2 separate regions of the Homo sapiens genome follow, and region 2 is linked to region 1. The links come from fine-mapping of genetic effects on gene expression. A gene starts in region 1. The other region holds a variant in brackets. All regions are shown on one strand. Distances are from middle to middle. Region 1 holds the start of LINC02937 (long intergenic non-protein coding RNA 2937). Region 2 overlaps LINC02937 (long intergenic non-protein coding RNA 2937).

Region 1 (5,369 bases):
ACTCGAGGCTGCAGTGAGCAGTGACCATGCCACTGCACTCCAGCCTGGGTGACAGAGTGAGACCCTGTCTCAAAAAAGGAAAAAAGAAAGAAAGAAAAAAAAATTAATATATAGCTCTGATAATACAATCTCAGTAATAAACCATTTGATTTATTTCCAATGTTATTGCTGTTTCCTGGAACAATGAGTGTGGTTCGATTTTATTTTTATTTTTTAGTTGTGGACAAGGTCTCCATTGTCTAAGCCACTGTGAGAATTCAGGTAAATCATGGCCCATCCTGGGACAGTTCCTCCACATTCTTGCTACTCAAAGTGTGCTTCATGGACTAGTGGCTTCAGCCTCACCCAGGAACGTGTTAGAAACACAGAATCGTGTCACCGCCCCAGACCTCCTGATGCAGAATCTTCATTTTAGTAAGCGACCCACTGCCCCCGCGCCCCCTGATGATTTGGGTGCTCATTAAAGTTTGAGAAGCACTGTTGGAGCTTGCCCTGAAGTTGTAGTGCGCTCTTACGGATTTCAAACCAAAAAGCATTACCTCTGTGAAGCCAGTCTGGAGCCTGGCTAGACCTTCTCCACCACCTCGGGGGCTTCTTATGTTCCAGAGTCTAACACTCTGGCCAGATACCAGGGACCTTTCACCCTCAGAACCTGTGCTCACATGTGGCAGTGAGCAGTGCCTGCACCTCAAGGCACCGCATCTTCCCAGCTACAGTGGGCCTGGCTGCTCCAGCTGCGCCCAACATGTGTTAGTAGGGGAATTAAATACCCCTCTCACTCCCAGTTTTGTGTATTTAAAAAATCCTCGGAAGAGAGTGGTATATGAGGTTTGAGGCTTATCAGCAGCTGCAGCAGCACAGGCCACGTCGTAGCTGTGAGTCATAGACAAGCATGCACACTGTGGCTGCCTGAGGCCTCTGAGCTGCCTTCCTCAGTCCTTCCCTCTGCAGGGCTTGGGCGTGGCGAGGCGGCTTCTTCAGCAAGTGCTGCGGTCAGCGTAGCGGGATTCAGAGTGCAGCTTGTCTGAGTGTCCTCTGCTTCAAGTTCACCTCGGCTGTCATCCCCCAGCAGACCACACATGCCCAGGGGAATGACCCTTTCTTACCACTGCGTCTTCAGACTGGGGTTGCTTTCTCTCCATCTCACCTTCTCCTGTACCACCTGAGGTACTAAATCTTCCAGGAAACCTTCCTTGAATGTCTTCTGACATCCCAGTGAGGGGCTCCTGATATTCACTTCCATAGTGCTTTGGTCACCTACTGCAGCATAAAACCACTCCAAATTGAATTGCTTTGCTCACAATTGCACAGGCCAGGGATTTGGGCAGGGCTTGGCTAGGCGCTTTTCACAAGGTGGGTCTCCTTTGTGGATGCTGTTTGATGCTGTCCTCTGAAGCCTCCACTGGAGGCTGGAGCTGCCTGTCCAAGCTGGTGGCCTGACACTGCTGCGGGGAGGCACAGGTGGCACTTTGATGAAAGCACCTACACGTAGCCTGTCTCTGTGGCTGGGGCTCTCTCACGGCGTGGTGCCTGGGCTCTGAGAGAGGGGGTCCTGAGAGCAAGTGCTCCAGGAGACACAGCCGAAGCCACGGAGCTCGCTGTGGCCTGGTCTGGAACTTTCACACACCACAAATGCTGCATTTCTGTTGGGTCAAATGTGTCACATAAGTCTGCACAGACTCGGAAGGAGGAGACTTACAGCACCATGCTGTGGCAGGGACAGCAAAGACTGTGTGGCCACGCTTCCTCTATCATGCGTGGCCAGGGTCTTCCCCACCACGACTCCTCCCCTAGGCTGTGCCATCTCACAGGGCTGCCTCCAAGCACATGCCTTCCCCAGCACCACACTCAGTGCTGGCCCTGTGAACACATCTGTGGGACTGATGGAGTAGAAACCTGCTTCAGCAAAAGTCGGGGAGTGGCAAACCTGGGAATGTAGAGAAGCACTCTGTGTGCAACACGTATTTCTTACGTACGCAATGATGGCTGAAGTCCATGCGGAGTTTATCACTACTGGTCAGTTTCAGAGTGTAGGTCAGAACCCGTGAGCCTTCCTTGCCAGAACAGTTTGGAGTGTCACACGAGGACTTCAGCCTGGACACCAGAACCAGGTGGGCAGTGGGGCCCATCACGTGCCACTGTAGTGTGAAGGGACAGGGTCTGCCTGCTGGTCTGCCCAGGGAGAAGATACTCCTAGCTCTTCAGGCTCCTACTCAATCCCCTGACAGCACCCCTTAGCGAAAAGGCACCACCCTCGGCGTCAAGCGCATCTCTGAATGAGGGTCATGGTGAGCTTGTGTTAGGAAAATAGCTCTCTTGCCAATACGCAGGCAAAGTAAGCTTCTGCAATTCTCAAAGTCCCGAGTTTGCAGAATTTTATTTACAGCAAAATGTTGGTTTACCCACAAACATCCTGCTTGGCTAAATATATCTCCTGCTCCTAGAACAGGACCTGTGGTTTTCAAGCATGGGTTTTGGCCTCCCTTCAGCATGCTGGCATGCATGTGCCCTGCTCTTTCTCCTGTGATCATCGGCATGATAGGAGGCGAGTGAGGAACTCAGTGTCTTCTGACACAGGCATCTCACAACACCAGTGCAGCCGGACCGTTGTCTGGTAGGTCTCTGTGCACCCAGGAGGACCTGGGCCTGCGAGAAGTCTGGGGCCCACTGCTGGGTATGCTCGTTTCTTGAGCATCCGAGTCACCTTTACAGTCTGCGATGATTGACGAGGTCAAACAGGACTCACTTGCATTGCCGGGTCTCTGTGGCGACAGGGAGGACTTGGAGGTAGGTGTTCAGGTCAGAAGGGACAGTCCTGACTTCCTCCACCGCTGTCTGCAGAAGCAGAGGCTGAAGCCACAGGCTGCGGGGGTGGGGAGCATGCTCCAGGAAGTGGCTCTCGGTGCTCCTGTCCACAGCCTCTGCAAGGAGAGGCACAGGCCCAGGCAAAGAACACAGTATGGCAAGTGAGGAGAAGGGGAAAAAATCAAATTACACGCTGTTTCTCCTTTGATAGTAGGAAGGCAGGAGGGAAGGGAGCTATGTAGACACAGGAGACGCTCCCAGTTCTGCTGGAGCTTAGGCTGGCCCTGGAGCTAAGCTTTAGCAATCTCCAAGGGAAAAGGATTGTTTAACAGAAAAATGGGGCCGAGGAAATACTGGACTTCAAATGAGAAGAAACTTTTTCAGAATCTTCGTGGCCTTGGGGCTGGTTGTCCTTCCCAGAACCATACTTTGTGGCAGTGGGGAAGTCATCTCTGATCTGAATCCTCCCCGGCCAGGATGTCAAATGGTCATTTACAGAGAATTAGTAACTGACAGGGAGAGGAGAGAACACCCTTCTTTGCCTGTGAGTGATGGCTGAGTCACACGCAGTGTGCGGTGATGGGCAACCATTATTTTTTGTTTGCTGAAATAATTTCATGGTGCAGATTGGTAGGGAGAGTTCATTTTTGAGAAAAGTCAGTTTCCTGTATTTGAGCAAAGAAACCACAAATCATTCTTTAACATTAGTAAATTTCTGTAAAGCACGAGTTGTCCTAAGTGAGGTGCGAGTGACACGAATCTTTTCCTCAGGCACAGAACTGTCATTCCTGCACTCTTGCGAGCCAAGGGTTAAATATTCAGGAATGTTCTGCCACCTGTTCTCAGGCAGCAATTTGAGCCTGGGAGGCCGCCCAGACAAGGACATGACAGCCCCCTCATGCCCCTTGCAGTTCTGAATGCCTCTCATCAATCCCGGGGTCTTGGGGGAATGGCAGAAGGATCCCCATCACAGTGGGGTCTCCCTTTTCACTTATAAATGCGGCGGGGCTGTGCTGTGCCTTCCGAGTGAGGAAGGGCTCTCTTCAGCCCACTTCACAGAAGCCTCCCTGGCAATCCAAGACCCCTAGTCCAGCTGCAGATGGCAAAGGAGACCCAAAGCACAGGAAAAAAACGCTATGGATAACCCTCAACAGCACTGCAGTGGTCTGAGGCTACTTGAGGCTAAGGGTGCAGAAGACCAGCCCAGGCACAGGTGTCAGGGAAGGCCCTGTCCTCAAGCGTTGGGAAGGAGGTGCTCTTCCAATCAGCCTCTGTCCCCCAACTGAGGGAAAGAGTCCGGCCAGGGGCCACCTGGGACCACCCAAGCCCACTGCATCTTCTCCTCCTTTTCCATCTGGTGACAGCTGCATTTCCGTGGGTGGCCAGGAGGAGAGTTTTTGATTCCCTTGCTGCCATGAAGACATGTGTGAAGAAAAGAAGCTGAGCTCACTCTGAGCCAGGTGTTAGAGGGCTATGGAATGAGGGGCTTTGGTGCTGGTGCTGCCTGGGGATGTTGAGTGTGTGATGGCTCCTAGGATCTGAGCAGGGCCAGGAGGACGCACAGGAGGGCCGGGGCGCCACCAAAGGCAGGGAGAAGCCCACGTGGACGTCATCAGATCCCCTCTTTGTTATTTAACTGAGACTCTAGTCCAAGAAGGACACCGTGTTGCGGGCCTTGAGAGACCCCTGGCATTGGCGCTCCAGCCAGGCCCCTCTGTCCTGTTGCTGTGTCTGCACTGCCCTGGCTTCCGTATGTTTTTGCTGTATGGCCAGGACCTGTGGCTCCCGTGGCCTGCCCTTGAGCTGCCCTTGAGCTGCCCTTGGACTCATGGAGCTGTTTTGCTGGCAGGCGCAGAGGCAGGAAGGACCCAGGGGTTTTGATCCTCATCGCCGTCCTCCCGGCCTCATGCCTTTGGCCAAGAGGACCAGAGTGGGAGTAAGAAGCCCGGGCAGACGGGCAGACTTGAGGGTGTCATTAGGATCCGAGTTCCCCTAGGGGTTGGGCTCCACCCACCCTGCCCCGGAACTGGCCCGAAATTGTGCCCTGCCTGCTGCTCCCCTCTGGGCCCTGCTCTGACTCGCCCTCCCCAGTATCCCCTGGAGCCCCCTTCGTCACTCCCTGGGTGCTCATCTCACGGCGTGCTCCTGAGGAACCAACAGCCCCTGCCCAGACAGCAGGGAAGCCTCAGCAGAGCCCTGGGGGCAGTTTGGGTGGTGGGGGGGAAGGGGAGGAAGGATGGAAGCCCACAGAGGGGATGTGCAGTGCGGGGGCGGGGGCTGAGCTGGGTAGAGCCGAGGCGCCTCTGCTCAGGCGTCTTCTGAGTGGGGCTCCAGGGCCTGCATGTTCCCCCCCGGCCCGCCCCCTCCACCCCGTGCAGTAGTAGGAGGATTCCCCCGCAGTGCGGGGGCTCCTGCCCTGGACAGGTCCCCAGGCCTCTCGCCCCGACCAGCAGCTTGGGCTGGAGCTGGAGCCGGTCAGATATTTTTCTTTACTAGTGAACCTTGCCTAGCACTGCTAGGTTCTCCAGGCAGGACGACGGCCTTTGGGGGCTGGTGGACGGGAT
Region 2 (5,369 bases), 8.0 kb after region 1:
CTCCAGTGATCCTCCCACCTCACCCTCCCAAGTAGCTGGGACTTCAGGCGTGTGGTACCACACTCAGCTAATTTTTTTTTTTTTGCGATGGAGTCTCGCTCAGCTGCCCAGGCTGGAGTGCAGTGGTGTGATCTTGGCTCACTGCAACCACCGTCTCCCAGGTTCAAGCGATTCTCCTGCCTCAGCCTCCCATGTAGTTGGGATTACAGGCACCTATCATCATGCCTGGCAAATTTTTTTATTTTAGTAGAGACGTGGTTTCACCATGTTGGCCAGTCTGGTCTTGAACTCCTGATTTCAGGTGATCTGCCCTGATCGGTCAATTTTTTTAACTTTTATTTTTTTAATAGAGACAGGGTCTCACTATATTGCTTCAAGTGGTCTTGAACTCCTGGGCTCAAGTGATCCTCCTGCCTCAGCTTCCCAAAGTGTTGGGAGTACAGGAATGAGCCACCTTGCCTGGCCCCATCATATTTCTGTTGGACAGTGCTGCACTCAAATCCATGTTCTCAGAATCTGTATTTTAACTAGATCCCTGAGTGATCTCTGTGCTATTAAAGTTTGAGAAGCACTGCTCTCCGGTAACTACAGCCTGTGGGCCAAATCCGGCCCAACGCTTGTTTTTGTGAAGTGAATATTACTGGAACGCAGTCACACCCTTTGTTCACACACCATCTGTGGCTCTTTGTGCTTCAGGGGTGGAGCCGAATAGTGGTGAGCTCACAGCAGAGCCTGAGAGGCCATCTAGCCCTTATAGATAGTTTCCTCAACCCTTGGCCTAGGCCTTGTTCCTGCCAGCATCTTATGGTGTGGTCACCAACCCTGATGTGCCTGTTCATGTCCTTGTCAGGAAAGTCCCTAGGCACAAGTGCCTGTGGTAGAAAATGCTTTTGGAGGCCTGCTTCTTTCCTGGAAGTCACAGAGGAGGCCGAGGATCCATGGGATGGAAAAGATTAAAAGATGATTTAAGATCAAAAGTCCCTAGTGATATTGGAAAGGCCCTTCGAGGCCACCTGACATTATCTTGCTTGTTGATGGGTGAAGCAAGACCCCAATAGGGGGTGGGTGGTGAGTCCTTTAGGTGCCGGGTGAAGGAGCCGGTGGAAACCTGGGTGAAGCCGGATGGGTGCCACCTCCAGTTGTTTTTGCAACAGGGTGTTTTCCCAGATTGTAGGTGTTGGTGGGATGGGAAGGCCCAGAAGTGAGTTGTGCAAACAATGCAGAATTTTGTCCCCTCAAATTAACACTTGGTTTTAGTTGCAATATTTAATTTACTGTGCAGTTTTCAAATAATATTAAAAGAAGGCATGGGATTTGTACATTAATCAGTGGGAAGCATAGAGTTAAAAAGACAAGACAAGACTAAGAAATGCTGCTCTATTTTTCTGCTACTCAAAGCGTGGTCCACAGACCAGAGGCATGAACATTGCCAGGAGATTGCTAGCAATGCAGAATTTCAGCCGGCCCCACTGAGTGAGAGTCTGTATCTTAACAAGGTCCCCAAGTGACTCGCAAGCACAGGAGCGTCGGAAACCCATCATTTCAGTTACTTTTAGGCTTTGGTGTGTCTTGAAATCGCTTGGGAGGTTTCAGAATTCTGAAGCCCAGGTCCCACTTCAGAGCTCTGCCTGGGGAGAGGCCAGGTGTGGAGCCATCTGAGGGTCTCCAGATGGTTTGAACGTGCAGTGGAGGGTGAGAGCCTCAGTCAACACTGGCCTTGTTTTTGCTCTGAGTTTCACAGCCCTGAGCCCCAGTGTGCCATGTTCCAGGTAGAGTCATCTAGGAATTTGCTCCTGAGTCAGGCTGCTGAAGCCCACTGTTTGTTCCCTCTCCCTGGAAGGGTGGAGATCCAGCCCTCTCTGGATTCTCTGAACCTCTGGTGAAACTTTTGGAAGGTGTGACAAGGATTCTGACTCCAACTTCCATGGCCAGGCACTTGCATGGCAGTGAAAGAGCAACAGGATTTGGTGCTTCCCCCACTGGGTGATGCAGGAATGTTCTGGATATCAAACAGGGAGTTAGCTTACTGAGACATGATTTTCAAATCCATGAGCAGTATGCTTTCTTTAAGAAACACTTGTATAAATTGCATTACTGTGAGGAATGGTTCTCAGCACTTTACAGATATTAGCTCATAAATAACATGACAGTCCTGTGAGGTGGCTTTACAGCTCCACCCACCGAGAAGTGGAGTCAGTGTTGGTCCCCTTGATTCTGGGCCTGACTTAGTGGCCTGTCCACCAAAGTTACGGTGGAGTGATGCTACGTAACTTTCAAGGCCAGGTCATGAAGAGGTGACAGCTTCCTGCTGGCTCTCTGGAATACTCCTGGGCCACCGTGGAAGCAGTCTGACTGCCCTGATCGAGCATGGCCACCATGCTGCAAGGAAGCCCAACCAGCCCACAAGTGGAGAAGTGCTGAGGTACTGAGGTGCTAAGTGACTGTGATGGGCAGAGCCCCTGAGATTGGCAGGCCACTTGTTCCTGCATCAGATCTGGTTCGTCCTGACCAATGGGCCTTGTTTGTCATGGGAGGGGGCCACAGAAATTGGGGCCCCAGTGTAGCTGGTGTTATTCAAAGTCTGACTGGCTGAGGCCCCCTGAAGTCAGGGTAGACCCTGGGCTCTGTGCTCTCCCAGCTGCCATTCATGCTACACTTTTTCACCCATCCTTGGCCTCAGGTAGGGTCAGAGGCCTTCAGGGTGTCCACCTTCCCTTCTCCCCAAACACCTGCTGAGCATCCCACTCAGCCACACCACAGAGCTGCAGTAGGCTTAGGGGACTTTTCTGCCTGGGTTCCTTGTGGTCAGCCAAACACCAACTCTGACTCCTCATAGTGGGAAGGGTGGGATGGAAGCCAGGGGATGTCTGTTGGCAGGCACACAGCTCTGCAGGCATCTGCCAAACAGACCTTATCTGACAGCCACTATTGGGCAAAATGGTTCTCTAGACCTCAAAATATGCCCAAGAGGGGATGCCGGGAGTCACCAGCACCCAAGAGAGCACCCCGGGGACAGGGCTTCAGTTGTCGGTGAACTCCTGTCCCTTCTGCCACTGAGTCCTCCTCAACTAGGGCAACCATAGCCCCCGGAGACAGGGTGTAAGCATCTTAGCAGTGCGTTGCAGTGGAGCAGTGATGTAAATATATAAGGGAATATCTTAGAGACAATAGCATTAGAACAAGGC[C/T]GAGCCTTCAGTTTGAGACAAGGACTGGATGCACAATGGGCCCTTTAACAACATAGGTTTGAACTGTGTGGGCCACTTATATGCAGATTTTCTTCCACCTCTGCCATTCCTGGGACAGTGAGACCAATCCCTCTTCTTCCTCCTCCTCGACCTACTCCACTTGAAGACAGGGATGAAGACCTCTATGATGATCCGCCCCCACTTGGTGAATAGTAAATATATTTTCTCTTTAATGATTTTCTTAATTATATTTTCTTCTTTCTAGCTTACTTTACTTTAAGAATACAGTATATGACATATATAACATATGAAATATGTGTTAATTGGCTATTTATGTTATCAGTAAGGCCTCTGGTCAACAGCAAGCTATTACTGTAAAGTTTTGGGGGGAGTCGAAATGTATACGAGGATTTTTGACTGCATGAGAGTTGGTGCTCCTAACCCCTGCATTGTTCAAGGGTCAACTGTACTTCGAGGTACTACAATTTTAGTGATTAATTTGTCTTTCTTGTTGGTGCTTTATTGTGTGGGTTGATTTGTTTTCATGAATATGTATTGGTAAATAAAATAAAAGAGTTTTAAAAAAGGAAAGCCTAGGCTGGGTGCACTGGCGCACGCCTGTAATCCCAGCACTTTGGGAGGCCCAGGCGGGTGGATCATGAGGTCAGGAGTTCAAGACCAGCCTGCCAAGATGATGAAACCCCATCTTTACTAAAAATACAAAAATTAGCTGTGTGTGGTGGTGGGCACTACTCAGGAGGCTGAGGCAGAGAATTGCTTGAACCCGGGAGGCAGCGGTTGCAGTGAGCCGAGATCGCACCACTGCACTCCAGTCTGGGTGACAGAGCAAGACTTCGTCTCAACAAAAGCCTGTGTTAACTGCACCCATTAGCTGTGTGCTCTTCAGCAAATAACTTACAAGGGGCCCTCCACCTTTCCCTACTCATTCCCTCTGAAACTGCATTTGCAAAATTTATGACAGTGAGAGAAATCTGACTTAGTTGATTGCATCTTGCTTCTGACCTCCAAGCTGTCCTTGGTCAAGGCAGCATGGGCCAAGGTAACTTTAGGAGGAATATAGTTTATAGTTTAACTTAAAAGCAAGGGTAAAAGTAAATCCCTCCATAAAACTAACCCCCTCCTTGCTCAGGGACCAAAAACCGCCTTTGTAAGACTAATGAAGGATGACAAGATTAGAATTGTGGGAGAGGCCTGAACTCTGCCTAAATGATGGCATAATTTCTATAATCCCTTACTGCTCAGGGGTCATGTGGCCAGAGGTCACAAGATTTGTGACGTTCCCCAATTGCTCCTGTGGATACATCACTATTGTAGAACCTAAGATTGGTTTTATCTGATTTTTTTCAGACTGACTTCACCTGGACCCCTGACTCATAACTCAGCTGGTCCTGTGGTTCCACCCAGAGGTGGACTCAGTGCACAAGGATTGTTTTCCACCCCTTTATGATTTCCTCCCCAGCTAATCAGCAGCACCCATTCCCTAGTCCCCCAGCCCACCGAATACTTGAGTAATAACTTCATTTCTCCTGCATGGGCCAGCCTTACGTCAGTTAAACTCTTTCTCTGTTGCAATGCCCTGGTCTCAGTGGATGGATTTCGTGCAGTGGGCAGGAAGAACCCATCAAGTGGTTACACTTTTACCTCAGTTCCCTCCAGGACTCAGGAACTCCTCTCTGGGCCATTGTAAAGATGAGAAATAATACACATACAGCCTGGAGCTCAGTGTTATTTGGGCAAGGTTGTGGGTAAATGTTTGTAGGTAAAAGATGGGAATCAGATCTACCCAGACAGCTCTTCATGCATGCACGTTGGGGAGACAGAAAACTCACCATCCAGGGAAGGCTTTCACCCATGTGATGACTTATTTTATGAGTCAATTTGAGTGGACCGTAGGTGCTCAGATTAAACATTATTTGGGTGTGTCTGTGACAGTTTTCTGATGGGATTAGCATTTGAACCAGAAGACTTAGTGAAGCGGATGCCCTTCTCAATGTAGGTGGGCCTCATCCAACCCCTTGAGGGTCTGCACAAAACAAAAGACAGAGAACAGAGGAATTTGCTCTCTTCCCCCCTTTCCTCCATGCTTGAGCTGGGACATCTCATTTCTTCTTCTTCTGCCCTGGGATTGGGATTTACATCATCTGTTCCCCTGGTTCTCAGGCT

The links. PIP is the estimated chance that this variant, and not a neighbour inherited with it, causes the effect.
Region 2: its variant is the best candidate, but not a certain one, in a credible set for the expression of LINC02937 in whole blood (INTERVAL, PIP 0.61).

The regions. Positions count from the first base shown.
Region 1 is chr9:91,160,423-91,165,791 of GRCh38, reverse strand. LINC02937 (long intergenic non-protein coding RNA 2937) reads left to right here and starts at 2,512. Exons shown (of 6, transcript NR_184105.1): 1 at 2,512-2,787. All of the region lies in intron 2 of LINC00484 (long intergenic non-protein coding RNA 484), which reads right to left. RefSeq lists enhancers at 811-1,105, 2,503-2,552.
Region 2 is chr9:91,152,391-91,157,759 of GRCh38, reverse strand. The region is part of intron 1 of LINC02937 (long intergenic non-protein coding RNA 2937); the gene reads left to right. All of the region lies in intron 2 of LINC00484 (long intergenic non-protein coding RNA 484), which reads right to left. Among named protein-coding and RNA genes, the nearest start is that of LINC02937, 8.2 kb to the left of the region's middle. The variant C/T (reference allele first, on the strand shown) is at 3,186.